Linked DNA regions of Homo sapiens. The protein of the gene in region 4 purifies or fractionates together with the protein of the main gene of each other region. This does not show direct contact. Each region holds a gene or a part of one and is shown on either strand. Other genes may lie near its edges.

Region 1 (3,500 bases), on a different chromosome or scaffold from region 4:
CTATTTTCTTTTCCCTGCCCGGTTTTGGTTTTTTGGGAAAAACAAATCCTGGCAGGGACTGTTTGGAGAGACCTGATGGGAGCAAGTTGGGCAGGCATGACCCCTGGTATTTTATCTTCCAGCTATTCCGCGAAGTAAGAATAATGAAGGTTTTGAATCATCCCAACATAGGTGAGCACAAGTTGTTATTTCTTTCTTCTTCCCCAACAGCAAGGCACTGCTTTCCAGCATGTCATCTTCTCCCCGAGGTGCACTGCCTTCTGGAGTCTGCAGTCTTCAAGGATACCCCTGGGGAAGCTCAGCTCAAAATCCATCTCCCCTTCTGGCACACTGGGCTGTCTTTAGCAGTTTGGCTGGCATGAGAGGAACTTGTTCTTGGGAGTGGGGGATCATGAAAGGAGGGGAGACTTTCGTTCCTAGGATGCTCCTGGACATGTTGGAGAGCAGTATGTGGCCCCTGTTGCTTCTTGACTTAAGGCTTGGCCTTTTCTCTTGTAGTTAAATTATTTGAAGTGATTGAGACTGAGAAAACGCTCTACCTTGTCATGGAGTACGCTAGTGGCGGTAGGTGTGGAACTGCCTCTTCCTGTTGTGCCCCCACTTCTTCCACCTCCAGCCAGCTCTGACTGAGATCCCTGCCTGGTCTCTTACAGGAGAGGTATTTGATTACCTAGTGGCTCATGGCAGGATGAAAGAAAAAGAGGCTCGAGCCAAATTCCGCCAGGTAGGTGTGACTCCCTCCATAGGAGCTAGGCCTGACCTCTGCTTTTGGGGTTTGACATGTAAGGATAAGCTGCCTGTCTGTAAGTGGCCCTTGGAGGGTACTTTGGGCTCTGCTTATCCGTGTGGCAGGTTAGCACTAAGTCACAGGGTCACTGCTCTGTCAGCCCCTGTGGCCCACCCTCAGGCACCCCTGGGTTAACCCTTCTTCCTTCCTTTCAGATAGTGTCTGCTGTGCAGTACTGTCACCAGAAGTTTATTGTCCATAGAGACTTAAAGGTAAGGCATGCACTTCTCCTTGTGCCTTTGAGTGGGAGCCAGGTTGTTGCCTCTTGGTTCTCCATGATAAAACCATCAATAACCATCAGGCCCTGAGTGTTCCAGGAAACTCCAGCCTTTCTTTTTTTCTTTCTTTCTTTCTTTTTTTTTTTTTGAGATGACCAGAAAGCCCCTAGGGCTGCCTCTGATAGAGGCCTTGTGGCTGGACCTCGGGTTCCATTCTAGCCCTTGAGCAGGGGCCCTCTGCCATTTCACCTCTTGGCACATCACCTTTTAGTGCTGCCAAGCAAGGCAGGCACACTCCAGGCTTTCTCAGTCTTTCAGGCAACCTGGTAGCTGACCCAGGGAAGAGTGCTGAAAGTTCCACAGCTGTATCCCAGCTGCTTTGCAGGCAGGCACACACATACCATCTCCATCACCAAGATACTCAAGTTTGAGGACACCTGTGGGTCTCTTGGCTGCTGAGTCCTCACAGACATGATTTGATTAACCTGGGCCTGATGCTGAAGCTTTGCACAGCTCACAGGGTCTCTGGGCCTTCAGATCCCATCTCTCCCATGGCTGCCCACGTGAGGAGTGGCCTGCATTGCCTTCCTCCTGCCCAGCCTATTCACGCTGATTGAAGCCCTGCCCTGAAATTGGTGGAGAAAGTTCTGAGACTGAAGATGACTTTCCGTTTGTTCTCCCATTCCCCTCAGCTCCTTCCTGCCCAGGGCCTTAGTCTGGTCCACTTGGTTCCCTGATGTTTTCCATCTTACCTCCCAGGCAGAAAACCTGCTCTTGGATGCTGATATGAACATCAAGATTGCAGACTTTGGCTTCAGCAATGAATTCACCTTTGGGAACAAGCTGGACACCTTCTGTGGCAGTCCCCCTTATGCTGCCCCAGAACTCTTCCAGGGCAAAAAATATGATGGACCCGAGGTGGATGTGTGGAGCCTAGGAGTTATCCTCTATACACTGGTCAGCGGATCCCTGCCTTTTGATGGACAGAACCTCAAGGTGGAGTGAAGTGCAAGCTTTTTATTGCTTCTCATTTCCTCTCGGCCTCTGGTCTTAGCCCTGACCTCCTGCCTTTGCCACCTGTCTACATTTGTCCCAAGCCAAAGCTTCAGAGAAGGGCTTGCTGAGGTAGCAGCAGTCAAAGGCCTTCTGCACCTGGGAATGAATAACCTCAGTTCCTTTCTCGAAAGATGGGATAAACTGTGTGTGTGTTCATCCCCCAAGGCACTCCGGATTGCAGGCCTCGGACTGGTCAAGTTAGAGGGTACGAGGGTATTTGACTTCACTTGCCTCTCTGGTGAGGTGTCTTGTCCCCAGGCTGTCTGCCTTCTTCCATATTTCATTTATGTCTGCTTTGCCAGGCTTAAGCTCTCAGGATCTTGGATATTAGGTTTCTTCCTTTGGCCTTGGGGTGATTTCAATTTTCTAACCCTGGATCCTCCTGCAGGAGCTGCGGGAACGGGTACTGAGGGGAAAATACCGTATTCCATTCTACATGTCCACGGACTGTGAAAACCTGCTTAAGAAATTTCTCATTCTTAATCCCAGCAAGAGAGGCACTTTAGAGGTGAGCAGTGGAGCCCAACTGGCGGAAGGGCCTGGGGTCCCCACAGAAACTTTCCAGCTGAGTTTCTTCCCCCTGCCCTTTTCCTTCTCTGTGCTCCCCAGCAAATCATGAAAGATCGATGGATGAATGTGGGTCACGAAGATGATGAACTAAAGCCTTACGTGGAGCCACTCCCTGACTACAAGGACCCCCGGCGGACAGGTGAGGCTGTGCCGGGCTGTGAGGTTAAGCTTGCCTAGGAGTTGAGGCCAGTCTTAACTGTATGTCCCCCTGTGCAGAGCTGATGGTGTCCATGGGTTATACACGGGAAGAGATCCAGGACTCGCTGGTGGGCCAGAGATACAACGAGGTGATGGCCACCTATCTGCTCCTGGGCTACAAGAGCTCCGAGGTGTGTGCTCCCCGCCCCATTCTCTGACCTGGCCAGCCTCACTGTCTGTAGCACCTATGCTTCTAACACCTGTTGAGGGCAGAAGCTCATCTCTGAGTAGGTGTGCTCTCTGCTCACCAATTTTAAGCCTCAGCTTTGGTGTCTAAGGTCCTCTGGCCCATTCACTGATCTCCATGAGTGAATTAATAGAAAGCTGGTAGGGTCGGTGTGGGACTGGGTCAGAGTTTCAATACGGGTGAGTTGATCTAGGTTAGTCTGCATTGATTAGATGTGTCTAGGTCATCGGCTAGCACTACTACATTGATCTAGATATCTTTGTGTCTCTTTTTGTATCTGGAAGTGTACATTTCTGGGTGTGTGTGTGTGTCTCTGTGTGTGTCTGATCGGAAGTTTGAGTCTGTTGCTTTTTTTTTTTTTTTTTTTTTTGAGACGGAATTTCGCTCTTGTTGCCCAGGCTGGAGTGCAATGGCAGGATCTTGGCTCACTGCAACCTCCGCCTCCCGGGTTCAAGCGATTCTCCTGCCTCAGCCTCCCAAGTAG
Region 2 (2,381 bases), on a different chromosome or scaffold from region 4:
CTGTTTATAGTTTAAACACTGTTTAATGTTAACAGTATGGTAGTCACTAACCACATTTATATTTGAATTAAAATAAAATAATTCAGTTCTTCAGTTGTACCAGCAATGCTTCAAATGTGAATCAACAGCCACATGTGGCTAGTGATTACTACACTGGACAGAATAGATATATAGCATTTTTGTCATTACCGAAGTCATTTCAGAAAATGCCATTGGACAGTGCCGGTTAAGAGAAAATGCCACTGTTAGGGCCAGAAATTTATAGGTCATCCATAAAGAGCATGCCTTCTCTAAGTGCGACCTGGATTTCCTATTCAAACTTGGCACTGCCAGGTTTTTAATCAATACATTTTTCAAATGAGACAAATATCTATAATGAATATGGGAGCAAGTTTTCAAGCAATTCAATAGAAAATACTAGGGCTCTAAATTCCTAAACAAGTATTTTAGAAGAAAAGATCCTAGCATATGAAATTCTGCATAAGGCTTCTGATTTACTTGATACTCACTTGTCCACTGCTAGTTCTGTGAAGGCTTCCACCTTCTGTAGCAATTTTCCACTTTCTTATAGCTTAGAACAGATTTCTATTTAAGGTCTGGTGAGGCCTTTGAGTGTAACTTCATAGGAATTAGATATTATTATCCATTTATTCCTCTGAGAACCACATTAAACTGTAGCTCCAGAGTATGTACAAAATGTATTTAAAAACTCTATAATATTTATTTATTTATTTTTGAGATGGAGTCTTGCTCTGTCACTCAGGCTGTAGTGCAGTGGTGTGATTTTGGCTCACCACAACCTCTGCCTCCCAGGTTCAAGCAATTCTCCTGCCTTAGCCTCCCAAGTAGCTGGGATTACAGGGTGTGTGCTACCACACCTAGCTAATTTTTGTATTTTTAGTAGAGACGGGGTTTCACCATGTTGGCCAGGCTGGTATCGAACTCCTGACCGCAACTGATCCACCTGCCTCGGCCTCCGGAAGTGCTGGGATTACAGGTATGAGCCACCATGTCCAGACAGAAATCTCTATAATCTTTAATATGTGGTTTCAGCAAATTTATTTTTCTCAGCTATTCTAAAAGGGAATTCTAAAAGAAGCTAATGTTCTTGCAAAATTCTTCCAAAATATCTAATACACATCGAATATGGTATTGCATGTACTGTTACATATTATACAAGTGTCTGAAATTTACTATTAAATGCTAAATTTTGATTTGTTAAGAAAGTTGTTAAGTCTTCCAAATAGAGCCCCTCTCCCCTTATCATATCTCTAGATATCTTTACCAGTGTGAAATGTATGACTCTATCTATATCCATATTACAATGTGTTTTACAAGAATAACTACACTACAGGATATCAGTTTTCCTTAAGAGGATTTTGGTCTCTGTCTTCTGAGGCATAGTTTACTAGTGAATTACTAACCATAAAATCCTAAACTATTATTGATTTTTAGATATAAATTTAAATTTGTGTGGAATAATCAGCTTTCATATAAAATTATTACATCTTTCACAAAAGATACTGTGGATACAATTTGGATGATCATCAAAACTTTCTGATAACAGAAGTAAATTACATAACTTTACTTCAAATTCTTCTTAAAAAACCAAACTATTTTAGAAACAACTTTTACCTTCTTTTAAGTTCTCGGGAGCCAGGATTCTCATGGCCAACACTTCTCATTCTAGTGTTTCCTAGATTGTGTCGTCCTGGTTTGTACTTCAAAACCTCACTTTGCCACTCCTCATCAAAAGCATGAGCATCACCTATGTCAAACAGAAAAATAATGGGAATAAGTATTAAGGTATCAACTGTCAGTAACTGCCTTGCTCCCACATATTTCAGTCTAGTCTGGTGTTTTCATTAGTGTAACCTCAATACAGAGGCAGGAAGCTGCTTCAAATATAAGGGTCTTTGACAAAAGTAGTATTTGTTTTCCTGTCTGTTCCTCTCCTATTCCTACTGATGATCTAGTTATTGATGATCTATTTTTTCAACTGCCTGGATAACATATTATTCTACCCAATGGACCAGCTGACCTAATTATATTAACTAACAGTTTTTCTTCCTGGGTCATCTCACAGTGAATATACTCTTCCTGTATAGTGTATACTTCTGTGGCTAGCACTTCTATTCACCTAACCATCTTTCTGTGTAACTTGACCTCACAAGTTTCTGTTGTCAATTTCCTAAGACAGGTTACTCAGCTAGAATGTCAATTCATGTTGTTATGAAGTAATCTAACTTCCATAATAGCAACAATAGAGACATGATAGTACTTCTTAAGACTGCTTTAAAATATTATGTTCCTTCACTCAATTTTTCATCAAAATGTTGATTATTGTGAAATACTCAGTATATATATAAATGTGATAAAAT
Region 3 (4,258 bases), on a different chromosome or scaffold from region 4:
ATTTAAAAGATAGGTTTAGTTCCCTGTCAATATCAAAGACATTTCTTTGAGGTAGAAGTACAAAATGTTCATCTAAAAGAAGGTTAGAGAAGAGTTTTAAAGCAAAAAATATATGGTCTATTAGATTCCAGAGATTAATTCTGAAAAGCATAAAAACTTATATACTTGGCCAGGTGAGGTGGCTCACGTCTGTAATCCCAGCACTTTGGGAGGCCGAGGCGGGCGGATCATGAGGTCAGGAGTTTGAGACCATTCTGACCAACATGGTGAAACCCCGTCTCTACTAAAAATACAAAAATTAGCCTGGCGTGGTGGGGTGTGCCTGTAATCCCAGCTATTCAGGGGGCCGGGGCAGGAGAATCCCTTGAACCCGGGAGGCGGAGGTTGCAGTGAGCCGAGATCGCACCATTGCACTCCAGCCTGGGCGACAGAGCAGAGCAAGACTCCATCTCAAAAAAAAAAGAAAAAAAAAAAAAAACTTATATACTCATAGGATACAATGCCAATGTCAATATTTACTTAGCTACAATATGAGACCTGAGTATTAAACTGCTTCTTTTGAAAATTAGGTTCATTTTATAAATGCCAGTTTCCTGCTGTATATTCGCCTTAAAATTGCAACGTAGAAGTTGAAATGCAGACTTCTGAAAATAAAAGTTGCTTTTTATAGGGATCATTAACCAAGCAGAATAAAGTATACAAGTAGAAAGAAAAACTAGCTTGCAAATTCAAAATGCCACATTACTACCAATAGGTCATCAATAAAGACACAATTTAACTGAAGGAAACTGTCAAGATACAATTTAACTGAAGGAAAATTATGAGGTATACCATGCATCTTATAATAAGGTTTGAGTCAGCAAGCATAAATGTGGATGCAACCACTCATGGGCATTGTAACAGTGACCTATACATGAAAACTCATTATTTTTACTCATTTGTCCAAAAGCACTCTGAACCTTCTACTAAATGGTGACATTGTTTTGCATCCTGACAGTTATTTCACTAGAAAATAATATTTACAGAAAGAATTTGAATTTAGAAAAAAAGCCACGAGTTACACTTTCAAATGTAAGAAAATATGCATAGTCTCTCTAAGTAACCCTCCCTAAAAGATACAAGAAAACTGTATGAAACAATAAAAAGGATCATCCTTTCAGTTTTAACTTCAAGTGGCAATAATTCAACGTTTTTTAAAAATTCAATAGTATTTAAGATACTGCTTTTAGAAAGCAGGAGATTGTAACGGCTAGAGTTACTACAGGTTAAGAGTTAACATTGTGGCTGTAATGTAACATCATTCCTGGACCAAAGGTACATACCGAAGTAAGTTCAGAGGAAGCAACCCATATCACATCAACAAGCAGAAGAATAACAATCCCAAGAGCCATTCGCCTGCGCTGAGTGAAACCACTGTTCTGGGAATTCATTCGGTTCATGACAAATACACACACCATTTGCAGTCTGTTTTTTAGAAAATACAGATCACATTAGAGATGATTTTAGAAAAACAACCATTAAAAATGAGAACATTAGTATAACAGAAACATTTGACTTTTGTTAGCTAATGTTCAGTGTGAAAGTTACATAGAGGATAAACGTGGAATCTACCTTGTCTTAAGAGCCCTTCTGAGATCCTCAAGAGCAATGCCGGAAAACTTGGCAGATCTCAGTCTAAAAGGAGGTGAAGAACTCAGCACCCCTAAAAACAACCATGAAATTATGCTATGAAAACGTGAATAACTCAAGGTAAGATTCATCACATCGTTTTTTACTCTTCATCTTCAAACTCAAAGCAAATCAATGAAAAGGACCAAAATGTGTTAAACATACTTGCCACCTTTCTCAGTACTTTCATGGTATCCACTGCACGCTTCAGATTATACTTAGAGAGATACGCGATACGGGGCGGGCAGGGAGGGGGAGTAATATACAACATACGGCACATTTAAGAACAGTTAACTACCAGAAAATAGCTTCTCTGAGTTTCACAAATACGGAACTCCATTCACCTCTCCATCCAGAGGAATCCATCCCTGGGGACAGCGTCTAGACACTGTTTCTAAAAGTGTCTTTTCTGTCCCTGATCTGCTGGAGTGGAATTTGGTTATCGGAGAGTAAGTGATTTGCTGTGGGTCTTGAAGGCACCTTTCCAATCTCTTCAAGTGGTAAAAGAAAAGGATTCTCCATGCTCCTCCACCCACCTCTATCAAAACATCCAGTCATTTTAAAAGAAACAGCTGGGAAAAGAAATCATCCTTCTGTTTTGGAGCGGGGAAGACAGTTAAGGCAGCGACGCCTCCCCGGGGAGCCGAGGCGAGGGCGCACGCACGGCTTCCTCAATTGCCAGCGGTGGGCGCAGGGCTCCGGCGCCCCTGTCAGCTCCCGCTCCCTCCGCCCCTAGAGACCTTCACGGTTTCGGTCAAGGCGCTCCTGCTGCCACCGAGGGCAGGAGGTGGTGCTGCTGGTGGGCACTCCGTCCCGGTTTGGGCTCCGGTGATGTCGGGGCCCTTCCCTGCCTGCCTACCTGGCCTTCCTGCCCCGCGATGGCGTCGTGGCGGCACCATGAGCGGACCGGTCAGGCCCCGCAGCCGCCCAGCGCCACGGCCGCGGCCTCGGACTCACAGAGCTGTCACCGCGCCTGACATCGCGCCGCACTGGAGGCCCAGCTCCTGAAGACGCGGTGCCCCTCAGGGAGAGGCTCCCGACACCACCCAACTCCACTCGGCCCAGGAGGGCGTGGAGCGGGTGAGGGGAAGGGACGGCACAGTCAGCTATGGCCGCGGAGGCCCGGAGATCTGCTCTGGCCCCGGCCCCGCCCCCGGCTTGCCCTCCGCGCGGCCCCGCCCCCAGTCCCCAGCCCGGAAGCGGTGGCGCGCGGGTGACGTCATAGGGGCGCGACGGCGGACTGCGCGCGGTCGCGTATGCAGCGAGGCTTGGCGGAGCTAGGGGAAGTAATGCGAGGCTCTGGTCGCCGAGCGAGGGCTCGCGGCGGCGAGGCGAAAGAAGAGAGAAGATAGGAAGAAGGGAAGTAGGGCGAGGTGGAGGAAGAAGAGGAAAGCGAGCGTGGGTGTCTGGGGCAGAGCAAAGGACGAGGGAGTGGCTAAACCTCCGCCCGCCTTAGAACGAAAGCTGGCCGTTCCGTTTCACAAACTGCGAACCTGAAACTTCGGATATCCCTTTCTCGATGACAGCCGAAACGCAAAGTGGCTTAGAGTACTTTTGATTCTTGAAACCTTTTGTATATAAACAAGATCTCAGCTCTAGGAGTTACAACCTACATCCTAGGCCAAGCTACTTCAACTTCTCTGGTCCTCGGTTTCCTTGTCTACGATAATGATAGTACCTGCCACATTGGTTTTTTGTGTGTATGCTAGGATTGCATGAGTTTACATATGTGAAGGACGTAGATCAATTCATGGCACATAATAAGAACCTCACAGACGTCAGCAATTTTTTGTTCGTTCGTTTGTTTTGAGACAGGGTCTTTCTCTGCCACCCAGGCTGCAGTGCAGTGGCACAATCACAGCTCACTGCAACCTCTGCTTCCCGGGCTCAAGCGATTCTCCAGCCTCAGCTTCCAGTGTAGCCGGGACTACAGGCGCAAGCCACCAATGCCCGGCTAATTTTTATATTTTTTAGTAGAGACAGGGTTTCGCCATGTTGGCCAGGCTGGTCTCGTACTCCTAGTCTTAAGTGATCCGCCCGCCTCGACCTCCCGAAGTGCTGGAATTACAGGCATGAGCCCTGCCAAATGTTGGCAGTTATTAAACTGTATAGATTTGTTCCTTAAATATTTTGACTATTCCATGAGAAAGGTTTGTCCAGCATCTTGATTTCTATCTACAAAACAAAAACAAGACTAAAGGGTTCAGTAATTTAACATCTTGGTCAGATGGCGTGAAGAAATTAAATTTTCTTACTCCTATAGTCGCGATGTAGTGTACCTCTTACCTTTTAAGTCTCGTTTCAGTGAAGTTGAATGCATATTCTAGCAACTAATAAAACAATACCAATGAACATTTTTTAATTGATCGAATCAGTTTCAAACTATCAGCATCAAACACCTCTAATAAGTCATTCAGAAACCTATTGTGCAGAGTAAAAAAAAAAACCAACCAGGCCGGTCGCGGTGGCTCATGCCTGTAATCCCAGCACTTTGGGAGGCCGAGGCAGGTGGATCACGAGGTCAGGAGATGGAGACCATCCTGGCTAACACGGTGAAACCCCGTCTCTATTAAAAAAATGCAAAAAATTA
Region 4 (3,061 bases):
GTTAACAAAAGCCAAAAGAACTTCTAGAAAAAAACAGATATCGAAAGAAGTAGACTTTCTTCCTATAAAGGATGTAGATAAGAATCTTGATCCAATTTTTATTCAAAATAGATGGAGCAAGATATGGGGCCTCACTTCCAAATGTCTCTTTAGAGTTTTTGACCTTGACAGCACTTATATATAATAAGGATAAAATTCCAGTTAATAATATAAATTGTGATACATTCTTCAAATGAAAATGGAGATCAAAATTAGATTAAAAGCAGGTGCATAAGTTAATTTGATACTTGTTTCTCACCTAAAAGCTTTCTAGACACTCAGATAAGTGTTTTTAAAAAATATTTATTCATGTATTTTTCCATATCATAAAATGTGTACTCTAATACTGAGTAATTTAGAGAAACCCAAATAACTTGGACTATTTCCTATAAAACAACAAAAAATAAGGCACAGTCTACATTATATAGTGAAATGGTAGCAAGAAGAATGACAAACCTAAATTAGGGGTAAATATTCATTTTAATTTTTTTGGACAAATAATTTCAAATATAATTTTAAAAGACCAAATCAGCATTACAGATTCCAATTTAAATTAAGCTTAATAAACACAATAAAGCCTTTGAATAGTTTTATTTTAAAATGATATGACACACTTGCTATTAACATATAAGGCATCAAGTGCCCTAAGAAAGAGCTCATAACCTTAATAATTGCCCTTGAAAATATCAAAAAGCACATAATCAATGTCAAATTATTTTTGTTTGGCAAGAAAAGTAAAATTAACAGCACGATGAGAACCACAGGGTACAAACTCTCAATACACAATATGTAATAATTAATCTTTCTTTCTTATATGACATTTGTTTGGAGCCTGGCTAGGAAGCCTGAAGATGGCAGTGAAAAAATAGGGAGAGCTGTTCCTGAAACACAGGAGAGTTACCCAAATTTGAAACAAAGGAATATACTCCCCATAGTCCCCTGAAATAAAATAACAATTCACGGTAAAATAATTTCCAAATATCTCACACTCTCATGAGCCTGAAATTGAGAGGTTAAAAAACAAATTAATAAATATTTGTGGGAGGCTGAACAACCAAAACAGGTTTATAATAATTATGGCATCTCATTCTGAGGCTGATTCCAAATTCTTCATTCATGACTTGTGAAAGACTTCTCTTCTTCTTAATGTCAATAGTAAGGCATGCCAAATTCCTATAATAAAATTATTCTAACAATAACTTTGGATATTAAAGCTGTATAACTATAAAATATAGTCCAAATGCACATAGACTTGAGTGCACATAAATCTGCACACAAACATAAACCACGAGTACACTCTTGAGTGTAAGCCACAGATTCTTGAAATTAGTTTTATGTGTTTAAAATAACGTCTTGCTTTTTACAGTGTCAATTCACTAGGCAGGCAAATTATTTCCCAAGACTTATAAAATTTGTGAGATGATAATATAGAATATTATGAACCAAAAACAGATATAGCTAAAAATCAGCCAAAAGGAAATGATATGTTAATTCTCTTTCTTAAGTACTCTTTTTAGACTAGGAAAAGCCAGTAAGACTTCATTATAATCTTCTCATCGTAGTCATTCTTTATGTCCAATTCTGGGAAAGGTTAAACCCATTACAGAGAACAGTAAGTATTGATAGTATTACATCTTGCTGTAATAGGTGAACCACTGGCAAAGGTTGTGAATCTTTTTTGTCAGACCACGTTTTTTTGATGGCATTAATTGCTGCAATGAAATCTGACCTTCAGGTTGAAAAACCTTCTCCTAAGAGATATACATATAGAACACTTTTTTAACTTGACAATTAATCCAAGTAAAATTTTGCATACACCTATCATTGCACACGTGAAAGATGAAGACCAAAATGTTCACATGCTCCTGCCTAGAATTTTTGCTTGTCAGAAGGTGGTAAAAAAAAATAGAGCCATTGGGTTCAGGCTTTTAATTCTCAATATTTAACTAGCATGGTGCTCAGTCACTCATTTATCAAGATTAAGTCACCCCTTATACTGGGGGGACTGAGGTAAAGGCACACATAAGTTTGGCAGCGCAGTCTCTTTTCAGAAATTGTACCTTGAAGGGCATGTGCCAGCACTGGTCCAATTGGGTCCCTAAAACAAATAAGTATGAGGGGGATGAACTCATATTTTAAGCAGACAGCAAAGCATGTGATGATATCAAGGCAAGTAACTTGATAGAACAGAATCAAGGGTTATAGCAGTCATGTGGGTAAAAGCAACCATGGCCTCCAAGAACTTCATGGTTCCAAGCAGTCTTGTCTTCCTGTAAACTATAAATCACCTACACAGTGGGGAGCATGACGAAAAGCTGTTCTTTATATGAGGGGCCAGTACATCTTATTATGTGATCTGCTTTAAGAGCTCCCAATGGGTGGGAAGGACACACAGCGCTGCAAAGAAAACTCTTTGCAAACTCTACCACTAACAGTTTAAGGTGCCCTAAAAAGAACTGGCTTATAAAGATATTAGGAGCCTTAAATCATCCACCAGCAGCGTGTAGATCCCAGTAATAAAGGAGAAAGACAGCTTTCTTTCTGTAACTCACCCCATTGGGCCACACTGCTGAAAGACGAGCTGTCTTCTCATTGAGACTAGGAAGATGACTCTTGAGTTTAGATTTCTAAAACCATGTAAATAAGCTAAAGACCTAGAACCACTGAAATATGTTTTTCTTCTCTAGGACTAGCAATAAAAACTTTCACAGGTAACAACCAGCACCATATTGAAGAGACAGACGGAAGGTCACAAATCTCCATGAAGGATGCAAGACCAAAACTATAGGTATTGTATGCCCAATGTCTATAGAATGCATCACCTGGTCTTGCCAAAGTACCTCTAGAGCCAAAAACACTCTTTGTCAGATTGGGAAAAACAGGAAATAAAGCACATGGCTTTTCTTTGCCTGTGTTACCATCATTTTAAATTCAAGTAATCTTCATATTGAATTCAGGCAGGATGGATAAGGGCTACATAAACCAAATACCCAGGGAAAAGTCGATTAAGGCAAGTATCTGA

What was found.
Region 1: the proteins of TMEM74 (region 4) and MARK2 purify together in Homo sapiens (affinity purification with mass spectrometry; one large-scale study listed by BioGRID and IntAct). This does not show direct contact.
Region 2: the proteins of TMEM74 (region 4) and MLF1 purify together in Homo sapiens (affinity purification with mass spectrometry; one large-scale study listed by BioGRID and IntAct). This does not show direct contact.
Region 3: the proteins of TMEM74 (region 4) and SLC35F5 purify together in Homo sapiens (affinity purification with mass spectrometry; one large-scale study listed by BioGRID and IntAct). This does not show direct contact.

Annotation. Positions count from the first base shown.
Region 1 is NC_000011.10:63,898,110-63,901,609, forward strand, and holds part of MARK2 (serine/threonine-protein kinase MARK2), read left to right. Parts: intron 1-122; coding exon 123-171; intron 172-498; coding exon 499-564; intron 565-653; coding exon 654-724; intron 725-942; coding exon 943-999; intron 1,000-1,764; coding exon 1,765-2,001; intron 2,002-2,449; coding exon 2,450-2,569; intron 2,570-2,670; coding exon 2,671-2,770; intron 2,771-2,847; coding exon 2,848-2,960; intron 2,961-3,500. UniProt on the Homo sapiens protein: Serine/threonine-protein kinase. Involved in cell polarity and microtubule dynamics regulation. Phosphorylates CRTC2/TORC2, DCX, HDAC7, KIF13B, MAP2, MAP4 and RAB11FIP2. Phosphorylates the microtubule-associated protein MAPT/TAU.
Region 2 is NC_000003.12:158,602,194-158,604,574, reverse strand, and holds part of MLF1 (myeloid leukemia factor 1), read right to left. Parts: intron 1,769-2,381; coding exon 1,636-1,768; intron 1-1,635. UniProt on the Homo sapiens protein: Involved in lineage commitment of primary hemopoietic progenitors by restricting erythroid formation and enhancing myeloid formation.
Region 3 is NC_000002.12:113,753,843-113,758,100, forward strand, and holds the start of SLC35F5 (solute carrier family 35 member F5), read right to left. Parts: upstream 2,801-4,258; 5' UTR 2,568-2,800; coding exon 2,528-2,567; exon of another isoform or gene 2,035-2,527; coding exon of another isoform or gene 2,013-2,034; intron 1,703-2,012; coding exon 1,612-1,702; intron 1,465-1,611; coding exon 1,323-1,464; intron 1-1,322.
Region 4 is NC_000008.11:108,778,474-108,781,534, forward strand, and holds the end of TMEM74 (transmembrane protein 74), read right to left. Parts: 3' UTR 501-3,061; downstream 1-500. UniProt on the Homo sapiens protein: Plays an essential role in autophagy. TMEM74-induced autophagy may involve PI3K signal transduction.